Linked DNA regions of Homo sapiens: all the other regions are linked to region 2. The links come from fine-mapping of genetic effects on gene expression. A gene starts in region 2. Each other region holds a variant in brackets. All regions are shown on one strand. Distances are from middle to middle. Region 1 has its middle 270 kb from the start of CHD7. Region 2 holds the start of CHD7 (chromodomain helicase DNA binding protein 7). Region 3 overlaps CHD7 (chromodomain helicase DNA binding protein 7).

Evidence for each region. PIP is the estimated chance that this variant, and not a neighbour inherited with it, causes the effect.
Region 1: its variant is the best candidate, but not a certain one, in a credible set for the expression of CHD7 in blood mononuclear cells (TOPMed, PIP 0.53).
Region 3: its variant is the best candidate, but not a certain one, in a credible set for the expression of CHD7 in whole blood (TOPMed, PIP 0.71).

The regions. Positions count from the first base shown.
Region 1 is chr8:60,947,069-60,951,311 of GRCh38, forward strand. No RefSeq gene overlaps it. Among named protein-coding and RNA genes, the nearest start is that of CHD7, 270 kb to the left of the region's middle. RefSeq lists an enhancer at 3,752-4,011. The variant C/T (reference allele first, on the strand shown) is at 2,481.
Region 2 is chr8:60,676,347-60,680,589 of GRCh38, forward strand. CHD7 (chromodomain helicase DNA binding protein 7) reads left to right here and starts at 2,394. Exons shown (of 38, transcript NM_017780.4): 1 at 2,394-2,736. RefSeq lists silencers at 1,942-2,381, 2,742-2,841, 3,502-3,871.
Region 3 is chr8:60,816,398-60,820,599 of GRCh38, forward strand. CHD7 (chromodomain helicase DNA binding protein 7) reads left to right here. Exons shown (of 38, transcript NM_017780.4): 8 at 1-104; 9 at 3,610-3,693. Among named protein-coding and RNA genes, the nearest start is that of CHD7, 140 kb to the left of the region's middle. RefSeq lists an enhancer at 595-694. The variant G/A (reference allele first, on the strand shown) is at 2,302.

The DNA of each region.
Region 1 (4,243 bases), 270 kb after region 2:
GGCCAGATAAGCAAACTTTATAGAGCACCCAGGAGTCCACTATCGCTGGTCTGAAGTTTGTTGAGTAATGGAAGGGGAATCCAGAAAAGGTGTTTGAGGTCATACTTGGGCAGTCTTGAAGGACAGTCTGCAATTAACGTGAATGGCAATGGAGAGCCTTTGCAGGGTGGTAGTATGCCTGCAGCCACACAAAGACCACTCTCAGCTAGGAATTCATAATAGTGCAATGTATTTTTACTATTGTAGAGATCATGTCTTAAATATACACGATAGCCTGTCCCAGAAGAGATCTACTCAAAACTTTTTCAGGGCATGAGAATGTACACTCAGTCTTTGAGAGTGATATTAAGTCAATTGCAATAAACCAGCAACTTGCACTTGTCATAGATTTAGTACACACACACTCATGCATACACAGTAATAGATCGAATTTTAAAGTCAGTTCTGAGTTTGAGGGTATTTACATGTGTCATTTTCTCTTTCAGTTTCAAAATTCAATGTGTCAATATATAAAATTTAAGAATAAATGTATATGGCAGGGTAATTGTTCAAGAATTAAACTATATGCCAACAGAACATTGGCAGGCTTTATTTTGTGACATTTAGGGATCTTGTCTTTGCAATTTTTCCTTGTGGAAAAAGAGGTAGATTGGAAATCATTGCAAATCAAAGTGATGCTTTCAACCTCTGAAACAAATGCTAGCTTGTCTTTTTCCACTTTTCATACATTTGCATAGATCTGTCAACTGAATCTGAATTTTGTTAAGGGTAAAGTGTAGTACAAAGTTATGAACACCCGCGTACCACAAAATTGCTTTGCCCCCTCTTCTTCAGTTCACAGCCCCATGTCCTTCCCCTCACCCTCTCAAGAGCATGTTCCTCTCAGAAGATTTGGAAAGAGCTTAATGAGATGGAGTCAGAGCCTTAATAACAAACTAGTCACTGCCAAACAGAACAGAACTTTTAAGTAGGAGATGACCTCTCCCTGCCACTGTTCCTTACCTGTGAGTTGTTTTGTTTTGTTTTGTTTTTGAGATAGGGTCTCGCTTGCCCAGACTGGAATGCAGTGGTGGGATTTTGGCCCACTGCAGCCTCCACCTCCTGGGCTCGAGCCATCGTCCCACCTTAGACTCCCGATTAGCTGGTACTACAGGTGCTAATTGCCAGCATGCCTGGCTAATTTTTGTATTTTTTTGTAGACACAGGGTTTGGCCATATTGCCCAGGCTGGTCTCGAACTCCTGGGCTCAAGCGATCTGCTGGCCTCAGCCTCCCAAAATGCTGGGATTACAGGGGTGAGCCACTATGCCTGGTCGAGTTTCTGTGTTTAATTGCAGTTCTACAGATAGTCAGAGAAATGTGTTTTCAGATGTTTCCCAGTGAAACAACCAGGATTATCTCCTGGCCAGATCCGAGTACTCAGGTGTGCATTCCCCTGGGGGAGAAAATCTGCTCCTGGCTTCAGCCGGGTCAAAAGGCCTCAGAAGTGGGAGGATGCAAACCCAACTGGCACATGCCACTAGCCCATCTCCTTCAACTGTCATTTATGGATCTGTACAGGGATCCAGCGATTCATTTGACTCCGATTGGCTGCCAGCTCTGTTCTACTGTGTTGTCAGACACCACTGCAGTTTGCAAGAAAGTCAGCTCTGCTTGCATTTGGGTTACTAACCACAACTGCCAAGGACTTGAAAAGAAATAAAACCCCGGGGCAGGCAGGGTCTTGATTCTGTATATGTTTTGTTGTCTGTTATTTTTATTCCAAATTAATAGTGCAGATCAAGCCCACAGTTAAATAACACATCTGCCTGGGGTTTGGGTAGCAATTCACAATATGTTTTTATTCATTATTGCTTTAATTATGGCTCAGAATTCCTTTGAATCTCTCCCAAGTAACAGGTGGTTTTCTGACCATGATAAATGCTAAATGCTGCTCAGGATAAGGCAGCTAAGGCATTGTTTTCCTAGCTGTGGTTACACCTAGGCCCCAGGCAGCTTCTGAATTAGCAGCCTGCAACAGATTGGAATTCCTGGGGGACTTCACTTAACCCTTAGTTCTCCCAAACTTGTTTTCAATGCACTGTTGCGTGGGGGCTCCTCGTTGCACCCAGCTGTGCGGCAGATGTGCTTTTTGTATTCTGGGAAGTAGCAGGAGGGTTTGGGGTAGGTCAAAAAGTTAATATGTCAATGTTCTGAAGGGAGATGGGAGTAGAAACTTGGTGATATTAAAGATGATTTGAATTTAGATTCTTAAAAAAAGAATAAAAGCATTTTTTTATATATCTGCAATAGATAACAATTAAATAAGTCACACATGAATCATCAAAATTAGAGTGAGGGCAACGACCTATTAGATCATCTAGCCAGTTCCCCAGTGAACACAGAATTATTCCCCACAGTGTTTTCAGGGGTGCTTTGTACAGTGTCTTTTGAAAGACTTGAGCAATTGAGGCCTTCAATTATTTCCTTAGGGAGACACTT[C/T]CCCTTATAAAAGGCCATAGTGTTTTCCTCCTTTGCCTGATAGTCAAGCTAAAAAAATAAATGTCTGTATGGTACATGCAAAATCATTTGCACAATGACACTGATCAGAGGTAGAAATTATACCTATAGGTCTCCCAGAAAACAGTGAGCATGCAGTTGGCATTCTTCCCTGCACTCTCATTTCAGGTTTTTACACTTGAATTTGCATACTTCATGGAGGTGGCAGTACTGAAATATCTCCGGCAAGCCTCCCTGTTTGCAATACCACTATTGCAAACTGGTCAGAGGTAACATTGCACCTCTTAATTTGAAACTAGGGGGGAAAAGCTGTTTTGAATAAATTCTGTTCAGACTGTCCATGTTGTCAGGGTAGAGAATACTCAGTCATCCAGGAAGTAGCAACTGCTTAGAATTCCTCTCTCTTTGGAACAGACTGGTATTGTCTTTCCTGGGTTGTTTGTATTGGAGAGGTCGCCAATTGTACACACACGTGACGGGGGCTGTAGGATAGACAGCCCCCAGTTTTCAGCCTTTGAAACCTGGAGCTGCAGAGCCAGTGCCCGTAGGTGGGGTGCTCACAAGGCTTCCTGCTGAGTTGCCATGGCTTGTGTCACAGTGCCCTTAAGGGCAGTTTTCAGTTCAAAGAGGTCAGATTTTGCAGAGTTATAGACAATGGAAGGGACAAATTGTCTCGATTTCCAGAACTCAAGAACGCTGTGACTTGAACACTCCTATCCTAGTCCCCTCCGCCTTCATTAGAGTCCAATGTGCCAGGCAGTGAGTTTGGAAATGGCAAACAAGGAATCAAATTTCCCACCTTGGAGGACCTCATGAGGCAGGCAGGGAGGCGTGGAAATAATTTTGAAGCATTGGAGTGAGGGCTATGAGATAGGTAAGCAGGGTGGCCACACAGTACAGGGAAATGGCACTCAGGAAATCCTGGGTGTTGGAAACTTCCCAGGGAAGCGGAACTGAAAGGACAGAAGGCAGGAAAAGCAGAGGAATGCAAACAAGAAAGGAAGTGACCAAAGCAAGGCAGAGGCATAGGGAGCAGTTCCAGTGGGCAGGGAAGTGGGAGGGTGTGGGGAGGTGGGGCTGAGGTAAAGCACCAGGAAGCCTTGCCTGCCATGCCAACTTCAACAGTCTAGAGAGGGGGCTTGCCATCATCAGTTTGGAGGTGAGGACGCTGTGGTTCAGAGAAGTGAGGTGGCTTCTCCGAGGTCACACAGTCCAGTGAGAGAGCTACGATTTAAACCAGGTCCGTCTTAATCCACTGAATGTGCTATATCAGGAGAGAAAGGTATGCTGGAGTGCAAATTTGGAGTGGGCATATTTGTGGCCTCCTGAAGGGAACAAGTGGCTAGAGGAGCTGCAGAGCTCTGCGGGGCTTGAAAGGTGTCCATAACCTTCCATTATCCACCTTGACCAGGACAGAAGCATTAGTTCATGGGAGAGCAGAATTTGGTTCCTGCAGAGTTTATCAATTCTTATAATTATCCAGAATGACTCATGTTGCGGCCAAACCAAGTGCCTTCTGCAAACGGGCCATCCAGACCAGGGTTGAGTCAGCTGCGTCAGTGGGAGCCACACGGGGCTTGTGGCCATGGTCAAGGCAAATATGTAGGTTTGTGGTCAAGGCCTTCTAGCAGGCATGAGAAATATGGGGAAGTCATGGGAGCACTTCATGCTTCAGAACTAAAGGGAGGGATTAGGAAGACAGAGCAGCAGAAGCAGGAGGTGAGCACTGGGGCATATGCAGTGCG
Region 2 (4,243 bases):
AACCAATTTACACTCATCTGTGAAAGACCAGTAGCCCCTTATCTCACCCTAAGGTATTTGCATACTTAAAGAGAAAGCTTGTGAATTCAAATTACTCTCATTGGGAAAACTTCAATAGTGAAGCAAATGGAGAAAAAACATTTCAGGCTAAAGGGGAGTGTTGGGGGATGGTGGTGGTGTGGTGAGAGCTATGACTCAGGTAGGCCAGATCTGCCTAGGAGTTTGCCCCTGAGGGCCTCTACTTTTTAAGGCCCCTTACGTTCCACACCACCACAACATCTAAAAGCTTAGAGACTTCTTCATGATGGCTCAGGGCAGTGATCAGGATAAGGAGACTATAAGTCAGAGGACTTATATTCTGTAGGACTGTTTTTACATTGGGTACTGGTATATATCAAAAGGAAGTTTCCTAGCTTTCGAGTTAAATGTACAAGAGCACAGGGAATCTCCTCATAGTCATATTTGTTGATAACAAGTTAATTGCAATATTGTAATTTCACTATATGTAGATGTCATTTTTTTTCTCCTGTGAATTGCCTTGAAATAGATGCACATCTGATATCGAGCTGTGGCACACTGTAAAAGATAAGACATAATTTTTTATGGCACATTATTTTAAAAATGTGTTCTAATATAGTCAGGTACTAGCGATTTTTTTTCTAGACATTGTGTCCTGTTTTTGACCCCCCCGCCCCACACACCCCTAAAGCACCTTTCATATACTTTCATTGGGAAATATAAACTTAATGGAAACAGTAGCCTAACCTCAGAGTTGTGATTCTTGGTTTGTGATACCGGGTTTAAAACAGATGGAAGTTGATTTTAGTGGTTTCAACTTTTTAAATGCCAGAATTCTTTCTGTACTGTCTTCTATGTTCTTTTTGATGATCTGTAAGCTCCTTAAACATTAAAACATTTATTTCTTTTAGAACAAAACTCAAATACATGATGAAAGCAAGCTAAAAGCAGTGCATTTAACAAACCACAATATAATGTGATATATTTATAGAATTATTACTAAAATCAGAAAATCAATGTCTTAGTGATTAAGTCTAGGATAATCAAACTTATTGAATAGTTGCAGTAGTTACTTAATGAGATAGTTTTGATTAATCTTTTGTCCAAATAACAATATTGTGATTACAGGCTTAGCACTACAGGTAGTGTAACCATCAGTGAGTGAGATTAGTACATTTTACATAGTTTTGCTATTTTCTCAGTTTATTTTGGAGTCCAGTAATAACCAGTCAGTCTGTACCTGCCATAGGGCAATCTTTGGTTGATATGAGTTCCTTTCCTGATTTTAAAATAAGTGCAATCTTTAACCTAATAAAATTATCTTAAAGTTTACAATTGATGGTTTAAACACATTATAATTGCTCCGTATTTTGCAGATAGAAGAGGCTTAATCCATGTTTGTAGATCTATTTCCTAAAATAAAAATTAGTAAAAAAAAGTTTTTTTTCTTCAGGTTTAACATTCATTTTGTACCGGGAAGAGAAATGGAATAAGAGGCTCGGATTTTTAAGACTATGCAATCAGATACAAGTGCCATTTTGGCCAAAGAATGAGTAAAACATTCTAGTCCCGACACGTTTAATAATGGGCATACATCCTATTTCTTTGTTTCATAATCATTGAGCTCTCTGCCTTCTCTCTCTTTTTTGGTATGGTAACAAATTCGACAAAATCAATGCCATCTAGTTAAACTTTTTGATTAAGTAGTGGATCCGGTGTCCTATCCACGAAGAGGTGGGAAAAGCGATGTGGAGAAGCAGGCACGAACCCATCTGGAATGGAACATGTCCCTTCCGAATAATTTCATGTGGGAAAATAATTTCAAGTTGAAGGATAATTACTGCAGAGACTGCCAGTCACCCCCGGCCGCCGCCGGCCGCGCAGCGTCGGAAACCCTTCGCGGCAGCCAGGAGGGTCGCAGCCCTCCCGGAGCCCCGCTTCCTGCCCCGGGGCGGCGCACCCGGCTCCGGGAAGGTGCCGCGCGGGAGACGTGGCAGCAGCCCCTCCAGTCCGCGCCCGGGCGCAGCGGCCGAGCGCTCCGTGCAGCCGGGCAAGGAAGACTCCGCGGCAGCAGCGCACCGGCCGGCGGGGAGACCCGCCTGAAGCGCCGGCGCCCGCCAGGGGACGGGAAGTGGCGCCCGGCCCGCCCTTGCGGCCCGCGGCCCGCGGCCCAGCAGCTCCGCGCCGCCCCTTTTCTCTCGGCCTCTCCCTCGGCCTCCGCCACCCCGGCCGAATTCTTGCATAAATTATGCCAGGCGCGCCTGACGTCAGGTGGCGGCGCGCGGGCGCGGGCGCGGGCGCGGCGCGGCCCGGAGGGAGCTGGCGGCGGGCGCGCGCGGCCCCGCGGCTTCGGGTGCGCGCGGCGTGCCGGACGCGCGCAGGCGCTGGCGTGCTGGGGCCGCGGCGGCGGCGGCGGCGGCGGCGGCAGCGGCGGCGGCGGCGGCGGCGCGGGGGTTGAGTCGTGGTGGTGCGGACGCGCTCGTGCTCGGGAACTATCGGATTAAACTTGAATCGAGTGAAATTACACAAAGGAGCGCCGCGGAGGAGGCGGCCCGGGGACCCGGACACCCTGAAACTCACCAGAGACCCGTTCGCCCCCGGCCAACTCCGTGCCCGTGGATTCAGCCCCCTGGCCGCAGCTGCCGAGCCAACTCCGGAGCCCGCTCTGCGTTTTGTTTTCCCCTCGGCACTAGGCAGCGGAGGAGCCCGACCGACCCGGTGAGCGCGAGAGTTCGCCCGGCGCCCCCGGGAGGGGCGGCGGCGGCGGCGGCGGCAGGAAATCGCTCCGGGCCGGGGCCGGGGCCGCGCTAGGAGTTGGGAGCGAGGAGTTGGGCGTGTGCGGGGCGAGGGGCGAGGGGCGAGGGCGGGAGGGGGCCGGGGCCAGCGCAGGAGCGCAGCGCCGCCCGCGTAGTGTCGCCGGCGTCGCCGCCCGCGGGGCCCGAACCCGCGCCCCGAGCGCCGCCCGGCGCCCCAACTTTTGCCTGCGTCCGCCGGGCCGGCGGCGGCGGGGGCGCGCGGTGCGGCCGAGGGTCACTTCCTCGCATGTAAATGGCTTTTTGTTGTGCTGCCGGCGTGGGGGGGGGGTACGGGGGACAGGAGGGAGCGTGTCTGCGCGCGGGGGAGCGCGAGCGCGTTTCCTCCCGCCGGCGCCGAGCACGAGTTGCCGGCTCCATTCGAGAGAAAAAGGAAGGAGGAAAAGTTGGGCTCCAACTCAAGTGCGAGCGGGCGATGGGCGCGCGGGCGCGGGGCGGCTGAGCAGCGGCGGCGGCGGCTCGGGGACGGCGGCGACCCCCGCCTCCCGCCCCCGCCCCCCGCTCCGGACCGACCACGCCGCGCTCGCCGGGAGCTGCGGCCGCACCGGCGCGAACAAAGTGCGTTCCTCCCGGCGCGGCGGCGCCAGCCCGCGCGGGGACCGCCACCGAGCGAGGTGGGTCGGCGGCGGGGAAAGTGCGCGGGGCGCCGCGTGGGGCGGGGGCAGCGCGAACACGCGGCGCGGGAGGCGTCCCGAGCTCAGCCAGTGCCGGTCGCGGGCGCGGAGTTGCGAGCCCGGAGTTGGGGGCTCCTGGGGCTCCCCGGCGGCTCCCAAGTGCGCTAGGAGGAGAAGAAAGGGAGCGGGGCCGGGGCGAGCGCCGGGAGGCGCGGCGAGGAGGGGACCCCACCTTGTCGAGCTGGCCGGGCCGCCGGCGGCGGCAGCTGCATAATAGCGACTTTAACCTTCCAACGCAACTCGGCTCCCCCGCCCCCCAACCCGCCGGGGGTCAGCGCCGGTGGGGGGTGGTCACCAGGTGGCCCCCGAGGTGACCCGGGTGCGCTCTGCCCTCGCAGAGAGCCGCGGCTTGGAGCGTGAACGGCCGAGGTGGCTGGAGGCCAAGCGGTCAGCGGGGAGAGGAAAGGAGGGCGGTGGGGGACGCGTTGTTTGTTTGGTTCGCACCGGGGATTGGGCTCGCTGGGGGCGCGGGGCTCGGGCGGGGGCGCGGGCACCGGCTGGGCTGCGGTGCGGGGCGGGCGCGGCGGCGCGGGGCTGTCGAGGTCGCGGGGGGGGGGGGCGGGGGCGGCGGCGGCGGCGGCTCCCGGGCGGGGGTGGGGGCGCTGGTCGGGAGGCTCTGGGGAAGGAGCCGCCGGCCCCGAGCAGCCATCATTACCGAGCCGCCTTTCTCCGGATGGCTCTGCCTCGAGGAGCCCGGAGCCGTGGGAGCGCACCCCAAACTCCCGGCCGGCCGCCCGC
Region 3 (4,202 bases), 140 kb after region 2:
ATTGTCAGTGGGCATCTATAGAAGATCTGGAAAAAGATAAGAGAATTCAGCAAAAAATTAAACGATTTAAGGCAAAGCAGGGCCAGAACAAGTTCCTTTCAGAGGTACGACATACCTGCTTACTTTTCCAAAGTATTTACTTTGTTAAAATGTTCTAAATTTAAAATTTTAGTTCCATGAATTAAGAAAAACTAGTTAGTCTCATTTGGTGCTGTCAACTTGCATATTGGTAACTGGTTCTTGCTAACAAATTTGTAAACAGGAAATTTCTCATTCTTCCTGTTGCTTAGGCTAGAAGATATGGGTCCTTATGATATTATGTGGAAATAGCGGTGATGGTATGATAAAAATCGTGTAATGAAAGTACAGTTAGCAGATGATGAAATTAAGTAAGTGGACAGAAGTTCTATTGAGATTTAGCAGGTTAAGAAATCTACAATGTTAAGTACAAGTTCTAAGATACAAAAGCTTGACTTCTGTTGGGGAAAGTATGTGGCAAATTTCTTTTGTTGAAGTCAATGCCTAATTACAGAGAGTTCACTAAACTCATTTTCGCAAATGCTGTGCTGTAGTGTAGAAACTGGTAATAATATCTTTGCCTGTGTCCCTTTATCCCAGGTATCAGTATAGAAGTACAGCAATACCTAGGGCAGAGAAGAACATCTGCATTTACTAGAAGTGCCAGTTCTGCCCTCTGCCTCCTCAGTATAGTCAATTACATTTTTTAAAAAGTGCTTTCACAAGCTGCTTACTAGGGTCTCTGGACTTAGGATCGCCAATTTGGTTTCACTTACAGCCTCAAGTAGATAAAAGAAAAACCCTAACATTGAAAGATAAGACTTGCTGATTTATTAGTTCCTCTTTTCCTAAAAGAGTTGACAGAATGTAGACTTTATGTAAAAGAAGCGTACAATTTGATGCAAAATAGTATCTGTTTAACAACCTACTTTGTACTGCCACCCCTTTTTGGAGATGAAGGAAAGTGGGACAGAAGAGCACTTAGTACTTTTATGTCATAAAATTCTTATACTATCAGGTAGCAAGTCTGTGTTCTTCTGGGATCTGATTTCCATGGTCCCAACTGGCCTATGGTAAAGTCCGCATTCAATGGGAGATCATGTGGTTGTTCTTTTACTGGACACATGTCTGCATCACTACCCCTGGCACTCTGAGTGTGCAGCATTTTTGGCAGTGCAGTGTTTAGGACCGAGTGGAATGGAGTTACTCGAATGTGACTCAATTCATAGATCTTGGAGAATATTAAGAAGATTCTTCAGAAGAACTTGGAGGAAAATTCTTTTGAAGAAAGAATCTTAATATTTGATTTTGAGGACAATGCTGTGAGATTCTATTTTTCATGCCCTTCTTAATGAAACCAGAGTTAAATTTTTATGACATTGGATGAGCTGAAATCATTAGCCTCCTTTTAGAAAGAGACACCCTGTGTTCTGCTGACCTTTTCTGTGGGCCAGGGGGAGGGAGACAGGCAAAAGCGCAATGGTAGCTTTCCCCCCATCCCTAAATCCTGGTCCTGTTTATTAAGTTTATTTGTATTCTCTCTCCTGTAGTCACACTGTCTTTAGGAAATTGTGCCTAGCCCTAGCTACACATACCAAGGTTGAATGTACATTATTTACCTGGTAACTTGGCAGCTAGAAATCTTAGTTTCTGTCCTGAGTGGGAGTTAGCAGAGAAGGATAGCAATCCCCTTCCTCCCTCTCTTTTATACATGAAAGTGCACACGCCCCCGTTTGTTTCATCCCATACATGATCATGGCTTCAGGTGTTCCATGGCTGTACTGCTTTGAGATTTTCAGTTTCAGCTGCTTTTACATTCTTTGTTTCTCCTTAGGCTGCCTTACAAGCCTGCTGCAACTAAAAATGTCTATTCAAAAACATCATTTAGACTGGAAATTTCGTCACATGTGTGATGCCGCAGATTACTCACTTAAAGGGTAGAAATGTGTAGGAAAAGTTAAGGATTTTAATTCAGCACTGACTGTGAAAGCTTATGTTTAAGAACAAGTTTTCCTAAAGAGAGTTTTTGCCATCCAAACCTAGTTTTGGGAAAGTTTAAGTGTTTCTGCTGTACATGGATAACACGTGTGTTTACCTACGTCTAGAAGCTTTTGAAAAGCCAGTGCATTAATACACTAATACTTTATATTAATTGAACATTTCAATGGATTTTTTTTTGCCTTACTAATCTACCTCTGTGTAAAAGCCTGAGATACTTGAGACATATGTTTGTGTTTCTGCTTTTTGTTTCATAATTCATGGTTCAAAGCTTCCCAACTGGGT[G/A]TTTTAAGAGGGCCGAATAGCCAGAGAAAGTTTGTTGTTCTTGAGCAGATGATGACTGAACTGCTTATCTTTTCCACCTGCAATTCAAGGGATAAGAATGGTGTCTAAGTGACTTCTAGTTTACCTTTTGCAAAATATTTTAATGCAGTTATGTTATTGATAAGTTAATTGAGAGGTGCACATAATAAAATGTGTCTTTTGTTTTCTAACATCTGAAACTTGTCTGACCCTAACTTCTTTTGGGTATGGCTTAGTCTATAACTCTTTTTTTGAGACGGAGTGTCGCCCTCTGTCACCTGGGCTGGAGTGCAGTGGTGCGATCTCGGCTCACTGCAACCTCCGCCTCCCGGGTTCAGGCGATTCTCCTGCCTCAGCCTACCGAGTAGCTGAGATTACAGGCACCTGCCATCATGCCCAGCTTATTTTTTGTATTTTTAGTAGAGACGGGGTTTCACCATGTTGGCCAGGCTGGTCTTGAACTCCTGACCTCGTGATCCGCCTGCCTTGGCCTCCCAAAGTGCTGAGATTACAGGCGTGAGTCACTGTGCCCAGCCTATAACTTTTTTTTGAGTCATATTCTAGTGTTTTATATGAGATACCTTTGCAGGCAGCAGTATTACTTTACTTTTGTAAAGATTGTTTAATATATTGGTTAAATGAGCCAATTATTTAGGCTTCATTTCGTTATCCTTAATACTTTTGCCTAAACACACTATATTCAATGTAAATCATTAGAAAACAGATTAATGATGAGACTGTGATTCTAAATGAGGTACTAATATTGGTTGACAAATACTACCAAACATTATAAACTCTGATCATGCTAAAATATGAAATTAGCTGCTTGCAGTGTATTTGGCTTTTGAATAACATTTTGTAGATATGCTATAAGGCATCGGACAACTCCAGGAGTTACAATATTCCAAGTAACACTTTGCATGACTCTGATTCTTCATTGCAAACTGTAGTTTCGAGAATGCTAAATGCATCGCATGCCATAAGCCTTTTGGATTGCTCATTAGTGAATTGTAATTTCACACTTCATTTAAAATATTCTTAAACATTCTCTCACAGTAAAAGGTTTCACACGGTAATTAAAAGACCCAGTTAACGAAGTCTGAGAAGTCTGATTTCCTCATGGGGAGTGATTTTGCTAAATTGTAGCATTTCAATTAATATAATAGAATTTGCCAAATGTAAGTTTTATATTGCTGTGACCCAAAATATTATTGCTTGGTGAAAAGTGGAATAGTATTTCATCTTAGGAAATAAGTAAACCTTTAACTTTTTTTTTTCCCTTTGGTGTAGATTGAGGATGAGCTTTTTAATCCAGATTATGTGGAGGTTGACCGGATAATGGACTTTGCACGTAGCACAGATGACCGGGGAGAGGTAACAGGAGATCATTTGTATTACAAAGTGGTGATTCAGGCAACCCATACATGTTTATAGAGAAGATGGTAGAATCCTAGACCTGGTCTTGGTCAGAGCCTTGGACTGTGACACACTTGGTCTAAATTTAACTGAAACTTAATGATTTATTATTAGTTTTATGACTTAATAATAGTGCTAAATATGTTTTATGTTTAGTCTGAGAACTTTTTTAAAAAATTGATTTTCAATATGAAAGAAATACATTGACATTTTGCACAATTCCACAATATGATAAAGAATTCAGTACATTTTGGTATAAATCTGTCATGTAGCACAAAGTATCCTTATATAATTGAGTGTCTCTTGTGGCAGAATGGAGTTTAAGGTTATTTAGAATTGGGCATCATTAGTGAAGTTGATGAATTCATTTAATGTGGTACACAGAGGCTAATAGACATTATTTCTCTTAAAAGATCCTAGTCTCAACACTCTTATTTTGCTTTGCAAAACTCTGTAAGATTATAAGG